Linked DNA regions of Homo sapiens. The protein of the gene in region 1 purifies or fractionates together with the protein of each later gene. This does not show direct contact. Each region holds a gene or a part of one and is shown in the gene's direction. Other genes may lie near its edges. The genes, in order: CPLX1, NDRG3, GLO1, JPT1, HBS1L and NENF.

Evidence for each region.
Region 2: the proteins of CPLX1 (region 1) and NDRG3 fractionate together in Homo sapiens (co-fractionation; one large-scale study listed by BioGRID). This does not show direct contact.
Region 3: the proteins of CPLX1 (region 1) and GLO1 fractionate together in Homo sapiens (co-fractionation; one large-scale study listed by BioGRID). This does not show direct contact.
Region 4: the proteins of CPLX1 (region 1) and JPT1 fractionate together in Homo sapiens (co-fractionation; one large-scale study listed by BioGRID). This does not show direct contact.
Region 5: the proteins of CPLX1 (region 1) and HBS1L fractionate together in Homo sapiens (co-fractionation; one large-scale study listed by BioGRID). This does not show direct contact.
Region 6: the proteins of CPLX1 (region 1) and NENF fractionate together in Homo sapiens (co-fractionation; one large-scale study listed by BioGRID). This does not show direct contact.

Annotation. Positions count from the first base shown.
Region 1 is NC_000004.12:784,457-788,129, reverse strand, and holds the end of CPLX1 (complexin-1), read left to right. Parts: exon of another isoform or gene 1-181; intron 182-263; exon of another isoform or gene 264-356; intron 357-1,431; coding exon 1,432-1,629; 3' UTR 1,630-3,173; downstream 3,174-3,673. UniProt on the Homo sapiens protein: Positively regulates a late step in exocytosis of various cytoplasmic vesicles, such as synaptic vesicles and other secretory vesicles.
Region 2 is NC_000020.11:36,683,591-36,687,090, reverse strand, and holds part of NDRG3 (protein NDRG3), read left to right. Parts: intron 1-2,615; coding exon 2,616-2,678; intron 2,679-3,500.
Region 3 is NC_000006.12:38,696,646-38,700,145, reverse strand, and holds part of GLO1 (lactoylglutathione lyase), read left to right. Parts: intron 1-3,500. UniProt on the Homo sapiens protein: Catalyzes the conversion of hemimercaptal, formed from methylglyoxal and glutathione, to S-lactoylglutathione. Involved in the regulation of TNF-induced transcriptional activity of NF-kappa-B. Required for normal osteoclastogenesis.
Region 4 is NC_000017.11:75,134,748-75,137,512, reverse strand, and holds the end of JPT1 (jupiter microtubule associated homolog 1), read left to right. Parts: exon of another isoform or gene 1-1,262; coding exon 1,263-1,411; coding exon of another isoform or gene 1,412-1,511; 3' UTR 1,512-2,265; downstream 2,266-2,765. UniProt on the Homo sapiens protein: Modulates negatively AKT-mediated GSK3B signaling.
Region 5 is NC_000006.12:135,044,823-135,048,322, reverse strand, and holds part of HBS1L (HBS1-like protein), read left to right. Parts: intron 1-3,500. UniProt on the Homo sapiens protein: GTPase component of the Pelota-HBS1L complex, a complex that recognizes stalled ribosomes and triggers the No-Go Decay (NGD) pathway.
Region 6 is NC_000001.11:212,442,920-212,446,879, forward strand, and holds the end of NENF (neudesin precursor), read left to right. Parts: intron 1-1,419; coding exon 1,420-1,523; intron 1,524-2,910; coding exon 2,911-3,087; 3' UTR 3,088-3,460; downstream 3,461-3,960. UniProt on the Homo sapiens protein: Acts as a neurotrophic factor in postnatal mature neurons enhancing neuronal survival. Promotes cell proliferation and neurogenesis in undifferentiated neural progenitor cells at the embryonic stage and inhibits differentiation of astrocytes.

The DNA of each region.
Region 1 (3,673 bases):
TCCTCCTGGGCAGAAAGGCCCCTCCCTGTGGCTGGTGATCCCGCGGTGTGCTCCTCCGTCCTGTAGAGTGCTGGTGCCCACTCCCCTCCTAAGTTTTCTCCTGGACGCAGCTGCTGACGCCTTCACTACTCCAGAGCACCTGTAATCTCAGATCCAGGACCTTGGACCTGGCCCGGGGGTCCTGTTCAGGGGATGGAAGTCCAGCTCCGTACAACACCAGGCCCCCAATCCTTCCAGGCCAGCCCAACCCCACTGGTTCCCACCTTCCTGGGCAGCAGGAGGCTGTTCCGTAGTTCCGTGGCCTGACCATGACCACAGGCTTCCTGGGCTGGTGGCTCACGGGAGGGCTGGAGGAGTGTGGCGTGGGGAGGCGTATTGATCTAGAAACCAAAACCCCGGGGCCTGACAAAAACTTAGAGGCCTGGAGGGCAGAAGAACAAAATCCCACACTCCCTCTGGAGGCTCTGGGGGAGGGCCCTTCCCTGCCCCTTCCTGCGTCTGGCGGCCCCGAATCCCTGGTGTTTCTTGACCACTCGCGACCTCCTCCGCTTTCGTATGCCCGCCCCCATCCGGGTGTCTGTCCTTTCTGTCTCTTACAAGGACACTCTCACTGGACTTGAGGCCCCTCAAATCCAGGATGGCCTCGTCCCCATCCTTACCATTATGAGATCAACAAAGACCTGTTTCCGAATGAGATCACCTTTGAAGCTCCAGGCAATATGAATTTGAGGGGGACAATATTCAGCTACTACGGAGGGCAGACGCACTCACGGGAGATGAGAAACGCGGGTGGGCAGGGGGTCGGTGAGGCCCAGGCATACTGGCTGAGGGCACGACTAGGCGGGATTCCAGGACACCCAGTGCCTGGAAGTGACCGCAGCCCAGGACCCTCTGCCGGCTGCCCACGGAGCTGCAGCGGCCTGCCAGGGAGTGGCCCTGCTGGGGCCGCGGCCGCATCCAGGCAGCCTTGGCCAGGCCCGGGAGTGTGAATGCAGGTCGTGGACCAGGCACTGGGCAGGAGGGTCAGCTGCGGGTTGACTGTTTCTCCCCACCTCTGCCACGCAGCATCCTGCCCACCCCTCCCTGCCCCGGGCCGGAGGCTTCCTGGAAGGCAGGATGCCAGGGGCTGGGCTGGGTTTGGAGCCAGAGGTGGGGCCACAGCCCTCTCTCCTCTCAAGGAAGATGGGAGCCTCCCCCTCCCTGCTCCCCCCCATGTCAGCTCCTGGCCCCCATTCTCCGTGGGGGCTTCCCATTCCTCCAGGGACCCCCCGGGGTGGGGTCTCTTCTCCTTCTGGGGTCCTTGTGTGCCTGGTGGGGTAGGGGGCCGCACCCACGCCTTCGGGGGTTCCTGGGCCAGTCCCTGGCGCAGGGAGGCTGCGGCCCGCCCGGGAGCCGCCGGGACCCCCGCCCTGACCCCCGCCTCCCCCGCAGTACGGCATCAAGAAGAAGGAGGAGCGCGAGGCCGAGGCCCAGGCCGCCATGGAGGCCAACTCCGAGGGGAGCTTGACGCGGCCCAAGAAGGCCATCCCGCCGGGCTGCGGGGACGAGGTGGAGGAGGAGGACGAGAGCATCCTGGACACCGTCATCAAGTACCTGCCCGGGCCGCTGCAGGACATGCTCAAGAAGTAGCCGCGCGCGGGACAGCGGCCCCGCGGAGCCCCCGCCCCTCCCCCTACAGATCCTCCGCGGAGGCCCCTGAGGGACGAGCAGAGCGCAGCCCCCACGCCGATATAAGCCATAGCCCCAGGCCCGCCCTGCCCGCGCCCGCCGCCTCCCTCACCCGGCAAGGGGCGCGCGCCCCCAGGACCCCCCCAGTCCGCCCCGTGCTCCTCTGCCCGCGGGTGGCTGGAGCCCCATCGCCTGGGACGCCCCTTTCTCTTGCTGTTTACCGCCCACCCAGCAGCGCCCGAGGCCAGGGCCGCCGAAGGGCAGCCCCGCGACCACCCCTGTGCGCGCGTTCGCGGCGGTGGGCGCCTGTCGGGCCCGCACTCAGGAGCACAGCCATAGCAGACGGGGGGCTGCGGGCGGGGCGAGGGCGGCGGGGCCTGGGTCCCCCTCCTGCACGCGGACTCCGGGGTTCGGATCGCTCCGCCGTGAGTATTTGCGTCCGCACGCGGCCGCTCTCCGCCCCCCGGCCTGGCCCCCTCGCGCCCCTGTCCATCCGTCTCTGTCCGCGTCCTTTCCTCTCCTCTCTGGAAGGTTTTGCTTCTTACGAACGCCACGGCCGTGTTCACTTCTAAACTAAAGGAAACAAAGCAATAGGTTTGGGGGACGCCCAGCCCCCACCCCCGTCACCCCGCTCTTCCCAAGTCCTCGCCCCCCGCCCGGCCTCCTAGCCTCTCCGCCCACGCGGCTGCTGCTTCTCCCTGGGGAGGACCCCTGCCCTCGGCCATTGAACACTGCACCCTCCACAGGAGCCGCAGAGGCCCGAGGCACCGGACGCTGGAGACCCTGCGCCCCTGCCCAGCACCTCCTCCGTGGGCAGCTCCTCGGGTGGGGCCTGCGGGGTTCCCTGCGCGCAGCTGGCGCGTGTGTGGCCTAATCCACCTGGTGGCCCTGCGGGGCGGCATCCGAGCCCCTGTTTCTCCTCCATTCATGTTTAATTTGCATCACAATTTGTTGAATCTCAGGTAAATGAGGTCTTTGCATTTAATGAGTTTTATCTTGACAGGCGCCGCCTCGCCCCCGGGCCCTTTCGTCCACATCAAAAATGCATCAAGTCTCCACGTGTTTCGGGCCAGGGCGTGGCTTGGCATTGACCTTCATGACCTTACATAGCTTTAGAGAAGCCATAACGTTAGACTGCAATACTAACGACCGACGCCCCTCCGGGCAGAGACCACCGCGCCCCTCTGCGCCCCAGCGACGCGGCCCGCGGGGACGTCGCTGTCCGTCCTGCTCGCCCTGTGCCCTCTCACTGACTTCTCCCGGGTCGTGTCTTTTAAAAACTCCTGTTTTCACACCTTACAAAGCCAGCTCTGAGCAGACAGGGCGTCCTCTCGTAGAACCTGCGCACCCCGTTCCCAGCGCATGGCGCCCCGGGCCGCGAGCTTAGCTTAGACCGTGGTGTCCTCTGTCCGTCTGTCCTGCGCCTGCGCCTCCTCCTGCATGTCGGGGCCCCTGCGTGTGTTCTCTCCGGATGGAATCACAGCCAATAAACACCAGTGATTTCACACCGTGTGGCCATTCCTTCCAGAGGTCCATTTCGCCAGCCGGAGGACCGGGGCTTTCCCCCGCGCATGTTCTCTCCACGGCGGCTGCAGGGCCTCCCACCATTCTCACTCAGCTCCATCCAGTCAGACCCATTTTCCCTAGGCCGTCCAGCCAGCGCAACCTCCATCTAAACACAAACCTGCGCCTTCAGGGTCTCCCGCCCCCCAGGGTGGTTCTTCCACCCGCAAAGCATCTGCCCTCTGCTCTCCCTCCCACCTAGGACCCCCGACCACAGGCCTGTCCCTCTCCTCAGCTCCACCGGGCCCAGGGCCCCAGGTCACCCTGTGCTGCCCTTACCTCGGCCCACCCAGGAATTCCTGCCCCCCAGCACCCCCGTGGGACTGTCCCTCCTCCTGAGTCCTGGACCCGGATCCCTGCAGGGAAATGTCTGCCAACCTGGGCTGAGGCCAGAAGAGGTTCCTGACCCCAACCCAGAGAACAGCCCCTCTGCCTGGTTGCT
Region 2 (3,500 bases), on another chromosome or scaffold:
GCCCCGGGGTTCAAGACCAGCCTGGATAACATAGGAATACCTTGTCTCTACAAAAAATTGAAAAATTAGCCAGCCAGGCATGGTGGTGTTCACCTGTGGTCGTGTCTGCTTGGGAGGCTGTTGTGGGAGGATCACTTGAGCCCAGGGGATTGAGGCTGCAGTGCCTGGATGACTGAGCAAGACCCTGTCCCCAGAAAGAAAACAAACAAACAAAAAAACCTGTCATTTTTGTGTCCTTCCTCAAAACTCCCAACTACTTAGGCCCAAATTCAGATCTCTCTGAGCTTTCCTGGGAGCATCTCCCCATCCTTAGCTCTCAAACTAGTAATGGAAATTTGACTATCTGTGTAACTGTTTATTCTGAGAGGCTGTCCTGGCAGATAGAGGTGTGGGGTGATTGATTGGCTTTGGCACTCTCAGCTTCCTCCTACATCTGCTTCGCAGGGCAGAGTCATAGGCTCCCTACCTGTTTGTTCCCTGGACGGGTGCTTATTGAGAAGACCTTAGGAGGAGTGAGCACACACTCTGTGGAATGCTAATTCTTCCCCTATCCTTTCACTCATCTCCAGAGCTGCCTTTGGCCAGTGACTGCTGGGAAATAGACAATTGCAGACAAATAATAGCTAATATTTAAATAGTACTCAAACCGTGTTCCAGACCCTGCTTTAAATGCTTTACATTTGTTAACTCATTTACTCCTCACAACCCTATGGGATAAGTTTACTATTATTCCCATTTTATAAGTGAGGAAACTGAGGCCCAGAAAAATTAAGTAACATGGCTAACATTACATAACAAATAAGTGGCAGAGCTAAGATTTGAACCCAGACAGTCTGGTGCCAGAATCTGACTCTAAAATGCAAATTGGCCAGTGGTCAGTTTATATCCAACAAGATTTGTATCCAGTTCCTTTTTTCTATTTTGTGGACAAATGGTTCCACAGCACACCATCCCCTTAAGTGTTCAGGCAGAGGCAGGCTGACTTCCCTGTCAGATGTAGAACAGATCCTGCCTCATATATAAGTGGTCATCTTAGGATCAATTCCATCTCCAATTCTGTAATACTTTTTCTTTCTTTCTTGAGATAGGATAGTGCTTTGTTTCCCAGGCTGGAGTACAGTGGCGTGATCATGGCTTACTGCAGCCTCAACCTCCTGGGCTCAAGTGATCCTCCCATCTCAGCCTCCCTACTAGCTGGGACTACAAGTGTGTGCCAACACGCCTGGCTAATTATTGTTATTTTCTGTAGAGACAGGGTTTTGCCCTGTTGCTCAGGCTGGTCTCGAACTCCTGGGCTTGAGCAATCTGGTTGCCTCAGCCTCTGAAAGTGTTGGGATTACAGGCGTGAGCCAACGCTCCCAGTCGGATGCTTACTACTTTTCTAGGAATTCTGATCTGGGTCTGTTCCTGGGCCTGCTCGAACATCTTAGGATCAGATGGTTCATATTATGAACCAAATTCAAATACAATAAAATAACCATGCCAGACACAGTGGCTCACACCTGTAGTTCTAGCACTTTGTTAGGCTGAGGTAGGAGGATCACCTGAGGCCAGGAATTCAAGACCAGCCCTGGCAACATAGCGAGACTCCATCTCTACAAAAAATTGAAAAATTAGCCAGGCATGGTGGCATGCGCCTGTAGTCCCAGCTACTCAGAAGCCTGAGGCAGGAGGATAGCTTGAGCCCAGGAGTTCAAGGTTACAGTGAGCTATGATTTCACTACTGCACTCCAGCCTGGGTGACAGAGTGAGACCATGTCTCTTAAAAAATTAATAATAATAATAATAATAATAATAAAATTTTAAAAATAACTATGTTATTCTATGCCTAAGTGAAACAAATAAGCATTCATGCTAAGGGTTTGTAACTGTGTGCCCATACCTAGAAAAGCTTTATTTTTGCATTTAGTTGCCTAAATATAGCAGTAGACCAAGACCCCCTTTCTGAGTTGACTCTTACTGCCGGAGGTTTACTGAGCCTGGACTCCAACTGAAGAGATTGTTAGAGGTTTGGAAATACCCTAAGAGAGAACCATGTTACTAGTTCTTTTCATGTGGCACCCTCTGGTCCCAAGGGCTGCTTGTTAGGATATAGAAACCGTGGATTATTTTACTTTCTCCTTAGCATGGCAGTTGTAGAGAGTTACACAATATGCCACAATCATTTTCAGGGTACCACATCACCTCCTTTGAGCCTTTGGTAAAAGGAAATGCTTTTATCTAAGATTTTTTTTTTTTTTTGAGGCGGAGTTTTGCTCTTGTTGCCCAGGCTGGAGTGCAATGGCATGATCTCCGCTCACGGCAGCCTCCGCCTCTCAGGTTCAAGCAATTCTCCTGCCTCAGCCTCCCAAGTTTCTGGGATTACAGGCATGTGCTACCACACCCAGCTAATTTTGTATTTTTAGTAGAGATGAGGTTTCTCCATGTTGGTCAGGCTGGTCTCGAACTCCCAACCTCAGGTGATCTGCCCACCTCGGTGTCCCAAAGTGCTGGGATTATAGGCATGAGCTACTGCGCTCAGCCTTTTATCTAAGACTTCTGGACCTTTCCAGCTGTTCTAGCAACTGGGAATTGTGAGTGCTTTCTAATTCAGGAGATATCCTTCTGGATTGCAGGTATCAGTACCCCACAATGGATGAGCTGGCTGAAATGCTGCCTCCTGTTCTTACCCACCTAAGGTAGGTTCATTCTGCAGTCTTTCATGCAGTTTTTATTGACTTTCTATGGTGAATTATTTAGTGTCTGTTTCAGAGGATATGATGGTTAGGAAAAATATTATCACTGTCCTCCTAGAGCTTAGTGGGGTAACAAGTAAGCAAACAAATAATAAAGTTCTATAAAATAAGTCAGTGGGGGTGTTGTGATAGAGAATAAGGGTGGGATCTACATTAGTAAGGCAAGTTAGGGAATTCCTCTCTAGGAAGGTGGCACACACGCTGAGACCTAGAAGATTTAAAAATCTACCTTGAGCTGGGCCAAGTGGCAGGAAGATCACTTAACAACAGCAGTTCAAGGCTACAGTGAGTTGTGATCCCACCCCTGCACTCCAGCCTGAGTAACAGTGAGACACCCTGTATCTAAAAAATAAAAATAAAGCTGTTTAAATTTTTTTAAAAACGTTCATCTCACTGAGAAGAGAATGGTTTGGAGAAGAATCAGAGAGAGAAAGCAGGGAGAACAGTTAAACTATTAACAATAGTCCAGGCAAGAGATAATGATAGCATGGTACTGGATGCTGCTGTTGGGGGATGATTGAAGTAGATAGTAGTAGGTAGATGGATATATTCTGGAGATAGACTCCACTGACTTGCTGATGGGTTGGATACTGACAGCTACCAAGGATAACTCCCAGGTTTCAGTTATATATATTTTTATATGTGTGTGTGTGTGTGTGTGTGTACATATATGTGTGTGTATATATATATGTATATATACATATATATACATATATTTATTTATTTATTTATTTGTTTTGAGATGGAGTTTCACTCCATCACCCA
Region 3 (3,500 bases), on another chromosome or scaffold:
AATAAAGAGTACAAAGAGAGGAATTTTACAGCTGGGCTGCCGGGGGGTGACATCACATATCAGTAGGACTGTGATGCCCACCTGAGTCTTAGACCAGCAAGTTTTTATTAAGGGTTTCAAAAGGGGAGGGGGTGTAAGAACAGGGAGTAGGTACAAAGATCACATGCTTCAAAGGGCAAAAAGCAGAACTACTAATAAGGGTCTAACAAAGATCACAAGGCAAAGGGCAAAAGCAGAACTACTGATAAGGGTCCAACAAAGATCACAAGGCAAAGGGCAAAAGCAGAACTACTGATAAGGGTCTATGTTCAGCAGTGCACGTATTGTCTTGATAAACATCTTAAACAACAGAAAACAGGGTTCGAGAGCAGAGAAGCGGTCTGACCACAAATTTACTAGGGTGAAGTTTTTTCCCCACCCTAGTAAGCCTGAGGGTACTGCAGGAGACGAGGGCGTATCTCAGTCCTTATCTCAACCTCATAAGACAGACATTCCCAGAGCGGGCGTTTATAGACCTCCCCCCAGGAATGCGTTCCTTTCCCAGGGTATTAATATTAATATTCCTTGCTAGGAAAATAATTTAGCAATATCTCTCCTACTTGCACGTCCGTTTATAGGCTCTCTGCAAGAAGAAAAATATGGCTCTTTTTGTCCGACCCCTCAGGCAGTCAGACCTTATGGTTGTCTTCCCTTGTTCCCTAAAATCGCTGTTTTTCTGTTGTTTTTCAAGGTGCGCCGATTTCATATTGTTCAAACACAGTTTTACAATCAATTTGTACAGTTAACACAATTATCTCAGTGGTCCTGAGGTGATGTACATCCTCAGCTTACGAAGATAACAGGATTAAGAGATTAAAGACAGGCATAAGAAATTATAAAAGTATTATTTGGGAACTGATAAATGTCCATATTAAAATGAAATCTTCACAATTTATGTTCCTCTGCCACAGCTCCAGCTGGTCCCTCCATTCGGGGTCCCTGACTTCCCACAACAGTTTTAGGATGGTAGAATTGCAATGCAGGGCAGGTACTGGAGAGTTAGTTAAATGTTATTGGTTGCAGTTCAGGTTATCTAAGCAGTGGTGGAAGAGGCTAACATGGTAGGTTGGGGCCAGATTGTGGAGACAGCTTTGAGTGTCACATCTAAGGAAGTTAGATTTTATATACATAGTGGGGAATGAGTCAGGGTTTTGAAGTATTCTATAAAGTAGATTGGAGGGATCCAAGTCTGGAGGTGATTAGGCCACTTAAAAAGCTCTTCCAGAAGGTGAGATAAGTGATATGAGGGTCTCGTTTGTAAAGAAGACAGCAGCAATGGCACAAAGTCGACTTGTTTTTTGATCATTTGCATCTTCATTATAAAGGAAGTCCAGAGAATGTATGGCTATGTCACATTTTGGGCAATCTCTCTGGGCTAACTTTCTTTAAAAGGTCAGATTCTCCTGGCAACAGAGAGAGACTCCGTCTCAAAAAAAAAAAAAAAAAAAAGGTCAGGTTCTCCTTCCAAGTAGTGATCTGGAGATCTTTTCTTTTTTACTATCTGTATCTGTCTCCACTAATACAGTAGACAATGTCCTCAGTGTTGCCATTATTTCTACCACCACTGCCAATGTCCATTTTCACATCGTTCCATATATAAATATATGAATATATAAAAATATAAAAAATTAATATATATTAATATATAAATATATCTATAAATATATGAATATATATATATATGATGGGGTCCCTCTCCAATCAGGTAGATTGGTGGAATTGAATGCAGTAGAAAGGAGAATAGGGAATGGAAAGGAGGAAGGAAGAAGGACAATGGCCAGATAAATGGCTGACTATTCAAGGCATAGAGAATCATAATATATATAAAGGCATAATGACATCAGAGAACTGAGGCAGGGACCTACGGGTAACACAGTGAATGAAGTTATAAGCAGTGGGACTTGAGGGAAGGGTGACCAAAACAATCATTAGGGTACTCAAAGAAAAGATGAGAATTCCCATTATATTCATTTGTTTTTCTCACCCTGTAATGGTTGCTATTTAAGTGATAAGGGTATGAAATAGAAAATGTTTGAGATGACCGGTTTAGGGGAGTGGTGATAACCGTTGGTGTTAGAGAAGTATGCAGCTACATATGTGGTTGCTTTTGGGACTGTCTCTCAAATGTGTTGAGGAACCACTGAAGTATTGATTTTTAAGCCAAAAATGACATGACAGGGTTTTCTTTATGGAAAGATCACTCCAAATTGCATGTAGATAAGCCTATGAAAAGCAAAGAGATAATTGTCTAGGCAGGAAGTAGTGAGGACTTCTTGCTTTCCTCAAGATACACTGAAGGCAGTTGAAAAGCTCATTTTTAAAAGTCTGGTGAAAACCACTTTGTTCACTTTTGTTTTGTGGGAGATGTGACACCTAGTAATAAAGAGTTAACAAACCCTTTCCCCTTTTATGAAAATTTGACTTTTCGTTAACTCCCTAGTTTCCCAGAAAACAATGAAAAATTGTGTTTGTTGCTTATGGTAAAAATAACCCAATTGGTAAATTGCATCTGGAGAGGGAGAATTGTAAATACTTGAAAGGAAGCCATAGCTTTGGACTTCCCTGATTGTAGTGACTCTTATAACTGTCCCTTGTGGAAATTCTAGAAGTTCTGCCTATGGAGTTGCTACTAGAGATACTGGCTCCTGTGGTACATGGGGCCTTCTGCCCTAGGGTGATTCTCATTCATATCCAGTGTGAATCTTCTCCCTGTACCTGATCTGTGTCGACTCCTGTAAGGACTCCCACTGAAGAGGAACACCTGATACTTCTTTGTTGGCAATCTGTGTTTTCCTAACAGATACCGTTTTGAGTAAACTGGCACCATGTATGGCCTATGGCTATGGTTGTCTTATAAGTCTGGATGTTTAGTTGAGCCTTAAGAAGACTTTCTGGGCCAGGCCCGGTGGCTCACGTCTGTAATCCCAGCACTTTGGGAGACCAAGGTGGGTGGATCATGAGGTCAGGAGTTCGAGACCAGCCTAACCAACATGGTGAAACCCTGTGTCTACTAAAAATACAAAAAAATTAGCCAGACATGGTGGCGCGTGCCTGTAATCCCAGCTACTCAGGGGGCTGAGGCAGGAGAATAGCCTGGGAGGCAGAGGTTGCAGTGAGCCGAGATCGTGCCATTGCACTCCAGCCTGGGCAACAGAGTGAGACTCCATCTCAAAAAAAAAAAAAAAAGAAGAAGGCTTTCTGTTGGGGGCAATATAACACTTTTGAAAGTTATTTGAGAGACAAAGTAGATAGTCTCTAAAGGGAATTGGTCTCAGTCTTATTAAGGTCGAAAGACAACATTTTTTAAACCAGAGAAATTTTTTAATTTCTGAAAATATGGCTAATGCAAGTGTGGAACTTCTCCTTTCTGCAGACTGAGGGTAATAAAGGTGCTATGGTCTGAATGTTTGTGTCCCCTCAAAATTCATGTGTTGAAATCCTAATCCCTGAGGCAGGTATTA
Region 4 (2,765 bases), on another chromosome or scaffold:
TGGTGGTGCGCGCCTGTAGTCCCAGCTATTTGGGAGACTGATATAGGAGGATTGCTTGAGCCCAGGAGTTTGAGGCTACAGTGGGCTGTGATTGAGGTACTGCACTCCAGCCTGGGCCACAGAGTGAGACCCTGTCTCAATATCCTCCACCTGCCACCCCACCCCTCCACAAAAAACAAACAAACAAAAAAACTAAAAATATGTATACTATTAAGCTCTTAGTAAAAGTTTCCTTTCATAGAAAATATAGAATTTTTGCATTCACTTTGCACTTTGAATCAGTTTTTTCCCGGTTTAGAAACAACCCTAATGAGAGACAATTCATTTGGAAAATTGGATGGGTTCCAGTTTTTTTGCTGTCAGAGAATTGGATAAATAGCCTATATCATGTGATAATTACTATAAAGCAATGAAGCTTGACAGTGAGGTGAGGGATTTGAAAACATACAGTTAATAAGCAAGGCGAATTACTACCCTGTTTGTAAATATGGATACATTTCCAAGAGTGAAAAAAAGAAGTTGATACCATTTATGTTAAATATAACCAAAACATGTTACATGTTATCTGGCTACATGTAAATATACATAAAACAAGTGGACTAGAAGGCTGCACAGGACTTGCAGTGGGACCTCTGGGAATAGGGGGAGCAGGATCCACCCGGAGCTGGAAGGGGCCGTAGAGCTAGAGTTCCCTGTTCTTATTTAAAAATCTTCATGTCCTTGGGCCAGGCGCGGTGGCTCACGCCTGTAATCCCAGCACTTTGGGAGGCCGAGGCAGGTGGATCACAAGGTCATGAATTCAAGACCAGCTTGGCCAGGATGGTGAAACCCCATCTGTACTAAAAATACAAGAATTAGCCGGGCATGGCGGCAGGCGCCTGTAATCCCAGCTACTAGAGAGGCTGAGGCAGGAGAATTGCTTGAACCTGGGAAGTGGAGGTTGCAGTGAGCCAAGACTGCACCATTGCACTCCAGCCTGGGCAACAGCGAGACTCCGTCAAAAAACAAAACAAAACAAAAAAAAACTTCATGTCCTTATATATTTGTGTAATTTAGAAAAGAACATAAACAACAAATATGGGAAAAGATGAACAATGGTTAATTCTGTGGAGTGGGAGCATGGTGGGTGATTATTTTGTTTATGCTTTTAGGTATGTTTCCAACCATCAAACCAAAAAAAAAAGAAAAAGAGAAACAGATCCTTGATCTTAACAGGAAATGGCTGTCATTATGAGTATTATTTCTATTCCCTGTTTTCATAGAAAATGTGGACACAGACTTGCCAGGCAGCCTGGGGCAGAGTGAAGAGAAGCCCGTGCCTGCTGCGCCTGTGCCCAGCCCGGTGGCCCCGGCCCCAGTGCCATCCAGAAGAAATCCCCCTGGCGGCAAGTCCAGCCTCGTCTTGGGTTAGCTCTGACTGTCCTGAACGCTGTCGTTCTGTCTGTTTCCTCCATGCTTGTGAACTGCACAACTTGAGCCTGACTGTACATCTCTTGGATTTGTTTCATTAAAAAGAAGCACTTTATGTACTGCTGTCTTTTTTTTTTTTCTTTTGAAGAACAGGTTTCTCTCTGTCCTTGACTCTTGGGTCTGTGGGCCATGGCATGAGTGTTTTCTAGTAGTAGATTGGAGGGAAAGCTTTGTGACACTTAGTACTGTGTTTTTAAGAAGAAATAATTTGGTTCCAGATGTGTTAGAGGATCTTTTGTACTGAGGTTTTTAACACTTTACTTGGGTTTACCAAGCCTCAACTGGACAGACCATAAACAGTCCACAGGCACCGTTCCTGCCAGGCCCCAACCCACAGGGAGTCTCTCCGCAGAGCCTTCTTGGTGTTGCCCTAACTTGCCAGTGGCCTTTGCTCAGAGCCTCCTCCTGTGACATGTGAACAATGAAGAGGCCTGCGCCTCCTGCCTTGCCGCCTGCAAAGCAAAGAAACTGCCTTTTATTTTTTAACCTTAAAAAGTAGCCAGATAGTAACAAGACTGGCTGGCTGATGAGCAAAGCCTTTGCTCTCACGCAGAGGAAGGCTTGGATGTACAATGAAACTGCCTGGAACTAAAAGCAGTGAAGCAAGGGAGGCAATCACACTGAAGCGGGTCTTCCTCCAGGAACGGGGTCCCACAGGCGTGTTGTTTTAAATAACCTGATGCTGTGTGCATGATGCTGGTGCTTGACCATGAAAGGAAAGTCTCATCCTTAAAATGTGTTGTACTTCACAATCCTGGACTGTTGCTTCAAGTAAACAATATCCACATTTTGAAACACTGTGTACTGTGTCTTCTTTTTGAGATGGTTTCAGTGTTCTCCCTGGTTAGATGCTTTTCTCTTTGTCACTATAAATCCTGCCTACTGATTGGAGGAGTCATTTGAAGTTAAATAGCCAGATGTGCCTGTAATTAGCTACTTGGGAAGCCAAGGCAAGAGGATGCTTGAGCCCAGGAGTTTGAGACTATCCTGGGCAACATAGCGAGACCTCCTTAAAAAACAAAATCTTAAAACAGATGAAGACCCAGAGAGGAGTGGGTTTCTTTCTGAAGAAGGCTCTAAAGATGAGCAGGTTAGACTCTTCTACCTCCCCTTTGTTCTGGGCAGTAACATTTTAAAGTGTTCTCCAAGACTGGGCAACATGGTGAAACCTCGTCTCTACCAAAAATAGCCAGGTGTGATGGCACACGCCTGTAGTCGGGAGGCTGAGGCAGGAGGATTGCTTCACCCTGTGAGATCAAGGCTGCAGTGAGCCATGATCGCACCACTGTACTCCA
Region 5 (3,500 bases), on another chromosome or scaffold:
AAGAGGCAAATTGAAGCTGGTTCTGGGAGTTTTGGAAAAACTGAAAACGGATATTAATTGCAGTTACTGGAAGAAACTGCTTCTGGAAGGTGAAGTGAGTATTGCTGGGGTGATACTGGAACAAGAAGCAAAAGGAAAGGAGCATGTGCCTGCCTTCTCTGGCTTTCCGGTGTCCCTTTCATATCTCCTTATTGGATGATCCTAAAAGGGAGCCGGGTATCAAAGAAGAAATGTGCTTTGCAGTGACTTCAATCCAGCATCACAAAGCTGAGTAAAGGATGGTAGGTTAGAAGCTGAGAGGTGGCTTAATAAGCAGCATTCCTTTATAGCTCCTTATTCAGGGGTTCAAAAGAGAAGACATTTTGTAGTGACTTAGGAATAAAACAATTTCACATTTTTCTAGGAACCTCCTAGGCATTTGCCCTTTGGGGCTCCTATAATTCAGCATCACAGTTGACTAGGTAACTTAAATATTAGAGGTGACAAAGTGATGTCTGGTAGTGCTATCCTCATCACTCACATTCTAAGCACATTAGAGAGCATGGCATATAGAACTGAGAAGATGATATGGTTATATTAGATTTGAGTTAAAAAAATCTCTAATACATAGTTAATGGATTAAAGGTGGTATATGGGTGGATGTAAGTAGACTCGTTAGGAGACTGTTATATGTATTTATCTAGAGGAGATGAGGCTATTTTAGGACAGTGTTCTCAAAGTGAACCATCAGCATCGCTTGAGAGTTTGTTAGAAATGCAATGTTGGGGACTCCACCCAAGAGTCAGAAACTAGGAGTGAGGCATAGCAGATGTTTTAACAAGCCCACTGGGGTATGCTCGTGGTATGCATTGAGAACCATTTGTTTAGGGCAAGAGTTGGTAGCATTGGATTTGGAAATACATTCAAGAGAAAATTTACAGGAGTTGAGGTCTGCAGGACTTGGAAGTTGGTTGAATATGGCTTTGTATAAGCGTGGAATCTTTCAGAGGGGGGATTACTGAAAGACACCTTAATATTGCAGGTTAACCCAGTCATTTATCTAGGCTTCTCTGGATAAATGTTATGTTATCTTGAATAATAAGGTAATAGTACAAAGTCAGACCTTCAAAGGGTGTTTCTCTGAGACTTGCATTTATGGCCTAGCTTCCTTGAGGACAGAGACGGAGTTTATCCATGTGTCTCTCATAGCTTTTGATGTGGCTCTTACCTGTGGTTTGTATTCAGGACAGTCTGACTCTGAGAGTTACTTTTCAAACACACCAAGAAGCCAACTGATCTTATCAAAGCAGGAGATAGTTAAATGTTTTTGGTTTCTTCTGTGACAAACTGATTTTTAACAAAAGCATACGACTTTGGATTTTTAAATTTTTCAAAACATTTTAAAATAGCAGTAACATCAGATAAGAAACTTACTTTCCTCTATAGTGGTATATTTTCCAAGTAATTTTCAATAAAAAATGAATGGTTTTAGAAGAATATTTTCTATTCTTAAGCAGCTAATGTCATTGAAAAGCTGATTGTATTCATGGTGTAATGAAGTCTGATAATTGAAAGACTTTATCAATTAATTGGAATTTCTTTCTAAAATTCATCAGCACGTGTATATTTTTTTGAATTCTATTAAGCTCAATTTTCCTGGTCTCACTATGCTGCCCAGGCTTGTCTCAAATTCCTGAGCTCCAGTGATCCTCCTGTGTCGGCCTTCCAAAGTGCCAGGATTATAGGTGTGAGCCACCATGCCCAGCCTAGGATGGTGATTTTTAAACGTTAACTTTTCTTTCTTTTAGAAAGATTGATACTGAGTATTGAACCTATGTCAAAGAGTAGGGGGTAGCAAAAGGAGTTTGCATATAAAACTTTATTTGAATGGTGATGTATTTTGTTTCAGCTAATATGATTAGAAGTAATCTTTGTTTGCTCCATTCTAATTTCACACCTTTATTGTATATTCTTTTTTTTTTTTGTAAGAAAAACACTATTCTAATACATTTATAAATTAGTTTGGTATAAGGAAGCTTGTTTAAAGTCTTGTTCAAATAACTTGCTACAACAGTACTGTGGGTAAAGAAAATAACCCTGACTGAAGGAGTCTGGGAAGGCTTCTAGAAGGAGGTGGGATTGAAGCTAGGAAATTTGGGAGTAAGAATGGCATCCCAGCTAGAGGAAACAACGTTGCTTAAGCAATGGCCTCTGAGTGAGGCTTGTTTCATCAGACTACCAGGATTAATGCAAGTGGCAGGAGGAAAGAGGGCTAGGAAAGAAAATAGGAATGAAATTGTGAAAGACAGTTTCTAATTTTGTGTTTTTAGTGTCAACTTATTGGAGTTTTTTGAGTAAGGGAGCTAGTATTTTGTGCAGATAACTGATCATGGTCCACAAAGTGGCGTATAGGTGGGCCAGAATAAAGGGGAGACTTGTAGTTCACCAGTGTTTCTTAATCTTACCTTGTGATATGAATCTGCTGGGAATCATTTTTTTTTTTTTGAGACGGAGTCTCATTCTGTAGCCTAGGCTGGAGTGCAGTGGCACGATCTCGGCTCACCTCAACCTCCACTTGGCTCCCAGGTTCAAGCAGTTCTCACGCCTCAGCCTCTCAAGTAGCTGGGATTGCAGGCGCCCGCCACCACGCCTAGCTAATTTTGTATTTTTAGTAGAGATGGGGTTTTGCCATGTTGGCCAGGCTGGTCTTGAACTCCTGACCTCAGGTGATCCACCTGCCTGGACCTCCCAAAGTGCTGGGATTACAGGCATGAGCCACTGTGCCTGGCCAGAATAATTCTTAAGAATACAAATTTCCTGCTTCATTCCAGCACCACTGAGTCATAATCTCCCGGGGAAGAAGCCTAGAAATCTGTATTTTTAATGAATGCCTCATGTGATTTTTATTTTAAGATGTTTAGGAAACCATTGTAGGAAGTTTCAGGTGTTAGGTTTTGAATTCTTTGCACTTTTATGTTTGTCAAAATGCCTTAAATTTTAAAAATTATAGGTGTCTGTTTTTTCAGAAGGCACTTCCATCAAAGTTTGTGATTTAAAATTTTAGAGAATAGCATTTTGTATTTACCATTTTCTCATCATTACTTTCTCTCACTCCTTTATTTGTTGTATTTGTTGCTTTTGGGGCTCTCAGTACAACTTCAGAGGTTTGGACCGCTCCCCACCTCACCCACCCACCCTTTGAAAGTAATGGAAAGACCTGCGGTTACTTTTGCAGCGACCCAATACTTCTCCTGGGGGAGTTTTCTTACTCTTCCCCCCACCCACCCTTTGCAAATCCAACCATTACTACTTCCAAAATAGTGGCCACAGTATGGGTTTTTGAGTTGGAGTTATGTGTTGGGTGTGTGTGGTCGTATAGGACCACCCTCGACCCCACCACAGAAAAAATAGCTCCTGGCAGGCAGAGGAGAAGCCTGTGCATTGAAAACTTCCTCTTCCCTGTCAGTATTTCCTGACTGAAACTTGTTGAGGGAAACATCTGATTTCATGCCTCACTTAGT
Region 6 (3,960 bases), on another chromosome or scaffold:
TTTAGTAGAGACGGGGTTTCACCATCTTGGCAAGGCTGGTCTTGAACTTCTGACCTTGTGATCCACCCGCTTCGGCCTCCCAAAGTGCTAGTATTACAGGTGTGAGCCACCACACCTGGCCTTCCTTCCATTTTAAATGAGCAGATTGAGTTAATCTTTGTCAGTGTTTTACTTCAGCAGGGGCTTTTTTCCCCTGATAATGACATGCTTCTACTCAAAAGCCTTTCATGACTTTCCATTGCCTGTAGAATTAAATTCAAACTTAATGATTTACCCTAGTTGAAGCAATGAGAGAAGTGTTCTTTAGTAAAGAGTTGGCATTATAGAACATTACAGAACATTTTAGTGCCATTTAATGTAACTACTAATGATATCTTGGAGATAGTTTTGTATTGGTTTATCTATTATTTGATAACAAACACTGCTGAATGGGAATAGATTTGGCTTCCACCAACATTTAAGAAGAGGGAACATTTTTCTTGTTTGCATCTTTAATTTTTTTTTTGGAGACAGTCTCGCTCTGTCGCCCAGGTTAGAGTGCAGTGATGCGACCTTCTCCAGCTGCCAGGTTCAAACGATTCTCCTGCCTCAGCCTCCTGAGTAACTGGAATTACAGGTGCACGCCACCATGCCCAGATTTTTGTATTTTTAGTAGAGATGGGGTTTCACCATGTTAACCAGGCTGATCTTGAACTCCTGACCTCAAATGATCTGCCCATCTTGGCTTCTCAGAGTGCTGGGATTACAGGCGTGAGTCACCGCACCCAGCCTGCATCTCTAATATTTTTAAGAGACTATTTTCTCAGTATTAACACTTAGGTGAAAAAACAGAACGAGAAGGGGGCTAGGCACAGTGGCTTATGCTTGTAATCCCAGCGCTTTAGGAGGCCAAGGTGGGCAGATCATGTGAGCTCAGGAGTTCAAGACTAGCCTGGGCAACATGGTGAAACCCCATCTCTTCAAAAAAAAAAATACAAAAATTAGCTGGGCATGGTGGTGGCACATGCCTGTAGTCCCAGCTACTCTGGAGGCTGAGGTGGGAGAATTGCTTGAACCCGGGAGGTGGAGATTGCAGTGAGCCAAGATTGTGCCACTGCACTCCAGCCTGGGCAAGAGTGAGACCCTGTCAAAAAAAAACAACAACAAAAGAGGTTGTAGGGGTACTATTCTCATTTTATATTTTCTGAAAATCCCTGCTCAGCCTGCATGTGTGACTTACTTCACATTTAGAGTAAGTGGAATCCAACCTGATGGCTGGGGTGGCTTACTGGACTTTGTATCGCCATTGTTTGGCCTCTCCGTGAGCGTGGAGTCTTTTTTAGGATTGGGTGCGGGCCTTGGGAGCGCCCCCACGTGCAAGCTCCTGGTTACTCTGCATGTAAACCCACGCTTACGTCTCTTCCTTCCTTCCCACTACAGAGTTTTATGGACGAGGAGCCCCCTACAATGCCTTGACGGGGAAGGACTCCACTAGAGGGGTAGCCAAGATGTCCTTGGATCCTGCAGACCTCACCCATGACACTGTGAGCCAGATTATAAGCCTTTGTAAAATCCTCTACCTCCTTGTCCATGCCTTTTTCTCTTTTTCTTTTTCTTTTCGTGTGTGTGTGTGTGTGTGTGTGTGTGTGTGTGTGTGTGTGTGTGTGTGTATCTGGGCAAGAGCAAGCCTTCCTAATTAGCTTATTTACCCTTCGGTCCACTTGGTATGGTGGCCAGGCATTTTCTTGAAATAGATTATCCTACCATGTCATCTCGACTCAGAAACCTTCCATGGCTGTCTGTTGCCTAGAGTCAAGTCCAAACTCTTATGAACTTGTGATCCAACTCAGTGATCATCACAATTTGGCCCCAACCTGCTTTGGCAACCTAATGCTCCTTATGGTCTGTACCTGCCACCCCATCCCCTCAGCCCCTTACAGCCTTGCTATTAGTCTCTGAGACCCATTCCCCAGGCCATGCTTGGTAGCTTTGTGGATGAACTGGGTTGGGAAGAAAGGTCTCCCTCTATGCTTATATTTCTGTGAAGGAGAAGATAGCATTAAAACATTTTTTAGGCCAGGAGTGGTGGATCATGCCTGTAATCCCAGCACTTTGGAAGGCAAAGGCAGGTGGATCACCTGAGGTCAGGAGTTTGAGACTAGCCAGGCCAGCATGGAGAAACCCCGTCTCTACTAAAAATACAAAAATTAGCTGAGTGTGGTGGTGCACACCTGTAATCCCAGCTACTTGGGAGGTTGAGGCAGGAGAATCGCTCGAATCCAGGGGGCGGAGGTTACAGTGAGTTGAGATCATGCCACTGTGCTCCAGCCTGGGCAACAGAGTGAGACTCCATCTCAAAAAAAAAAAAATTTGTTTTTTAAACCTATTCAAGGTCTAAATAATTCCAACAGTAAGGCTGGAATTTCCTCTAACTGTGCTCAACATCAAACTGACATTGAGATAAATTGAGATGAGCCAAACTCATAACAAAATGAATGTAACAATATTACAAAAATGAATGAAGAACTTAAGAAAGGGGAAGGTGCCAAATGTATAATGGGAGGAGTGTAGAGAGAGGGATAATGGGAGCAGTGTAGAGAGAGGGAGGATTAATCGGGGGGAGGAAGGGGATGCAGATGCAATAGGGCATGCCCTGCCCCACCCCAGCATGCTCTCTGGAGTCTTTCATCCCTTCCATCAGTCAAACCACAAAGTGTGATGAAGCATTGCTCCCCGTATGTTATACCCTCCCACCCCCACGCCCCCCCCACAGCAGTGTCTCTTAAGCCATTTGTCCATTATTTGGTTTGTTGAGATATCTTTTCTCTTGCATTAGGGATGTGGGAGGCAAGGCAGGGATGGAGAAAGGCCAGTGCCAAACACTATCCACTTAACCCCATCTCCTGTCTTTCTTGGGCTTTTCTCCCCAAGACGGGTCTCACGGCCAAGGAACTGGAGGCCCTGGATGAGGTCTTCACCAAAGTGTACAAAGCCAAATACCCCATCGTCGGCTACACTGCCCGGAGAATTCTCAATGAGGATGGCAGCCCTAACCTGGACTTCAAGCCTGAAGACCAGCCCCATTTTGACATCAAGGATGAGTTCTGATGTTCCCCCTGCAGGAGCAGGTTCTTGGGAGCGTGAGGCAGGAAGACACTAGGTGCTGAATCTCCTGCAAAACTGGCTGCCTGGAGGCCCTGAGCCACCCAGATCTGAATAAAACAGATGCTTACCCTGGAAGAGCAAATGCCTCCTGTTGTCCTTGGTCAGGGGTTCTGTCTACCTGGGGACCCCTGTCTGCACACCAGGGATCAATAAGAGCCAAAGTGGGACACCTCCTAGATGTCAGTATCAGCTGGCTGGGCAGTGGAATTTTGAGCGACCTTTACTTTATACTTTTCTGTGCTTGACAGATTTTCAGCCATGACCATGTTCACTTTATAATCAAAACAAAAATAAAGGTCCCATTTTTACAAAAGGAGAATTCTTCCCCAGAGGCCATTTCCTTGGAGCCCACATAAGCGGGTGGGCTGTGTTGTTCTTCCATAGTCCTGCGGGGCCGGATGGTGGGGCATTTAGGCAATGGGCAGGAAAAGAGAGTGGTGAGGTGGGAGGGTGGGCGATGGGAAGGGAGCCAGGAAACCCGGCTGGAGTGAGGGTGGGAACTGGCTTCAGTGCACGTGCAGCTGGAGATTGGTGAGGAGGGCCGGGGTCAGTGTGGGCAGAGCCTGGTGGAGGTCATTCCAAGAACGGGAGGCATATTCCTTATGCTGGACTGAGGTCAGATTTTAAGAGGAAGCCCCTTTTGTTAGAGTGGGCAGATTTTTCCCTCTGGGGACATTGGGTGATGTCTGGCAACATTTTTTTTTTTTTAATTTTTGTCTGTCATGACTGCAGGATGCTACTGGCATCTCGAGGCCAGGGATGCTGGTCAACATTCTGTAATGCACCTGACAAAGCATCATCCGGTCCGAAATTTCA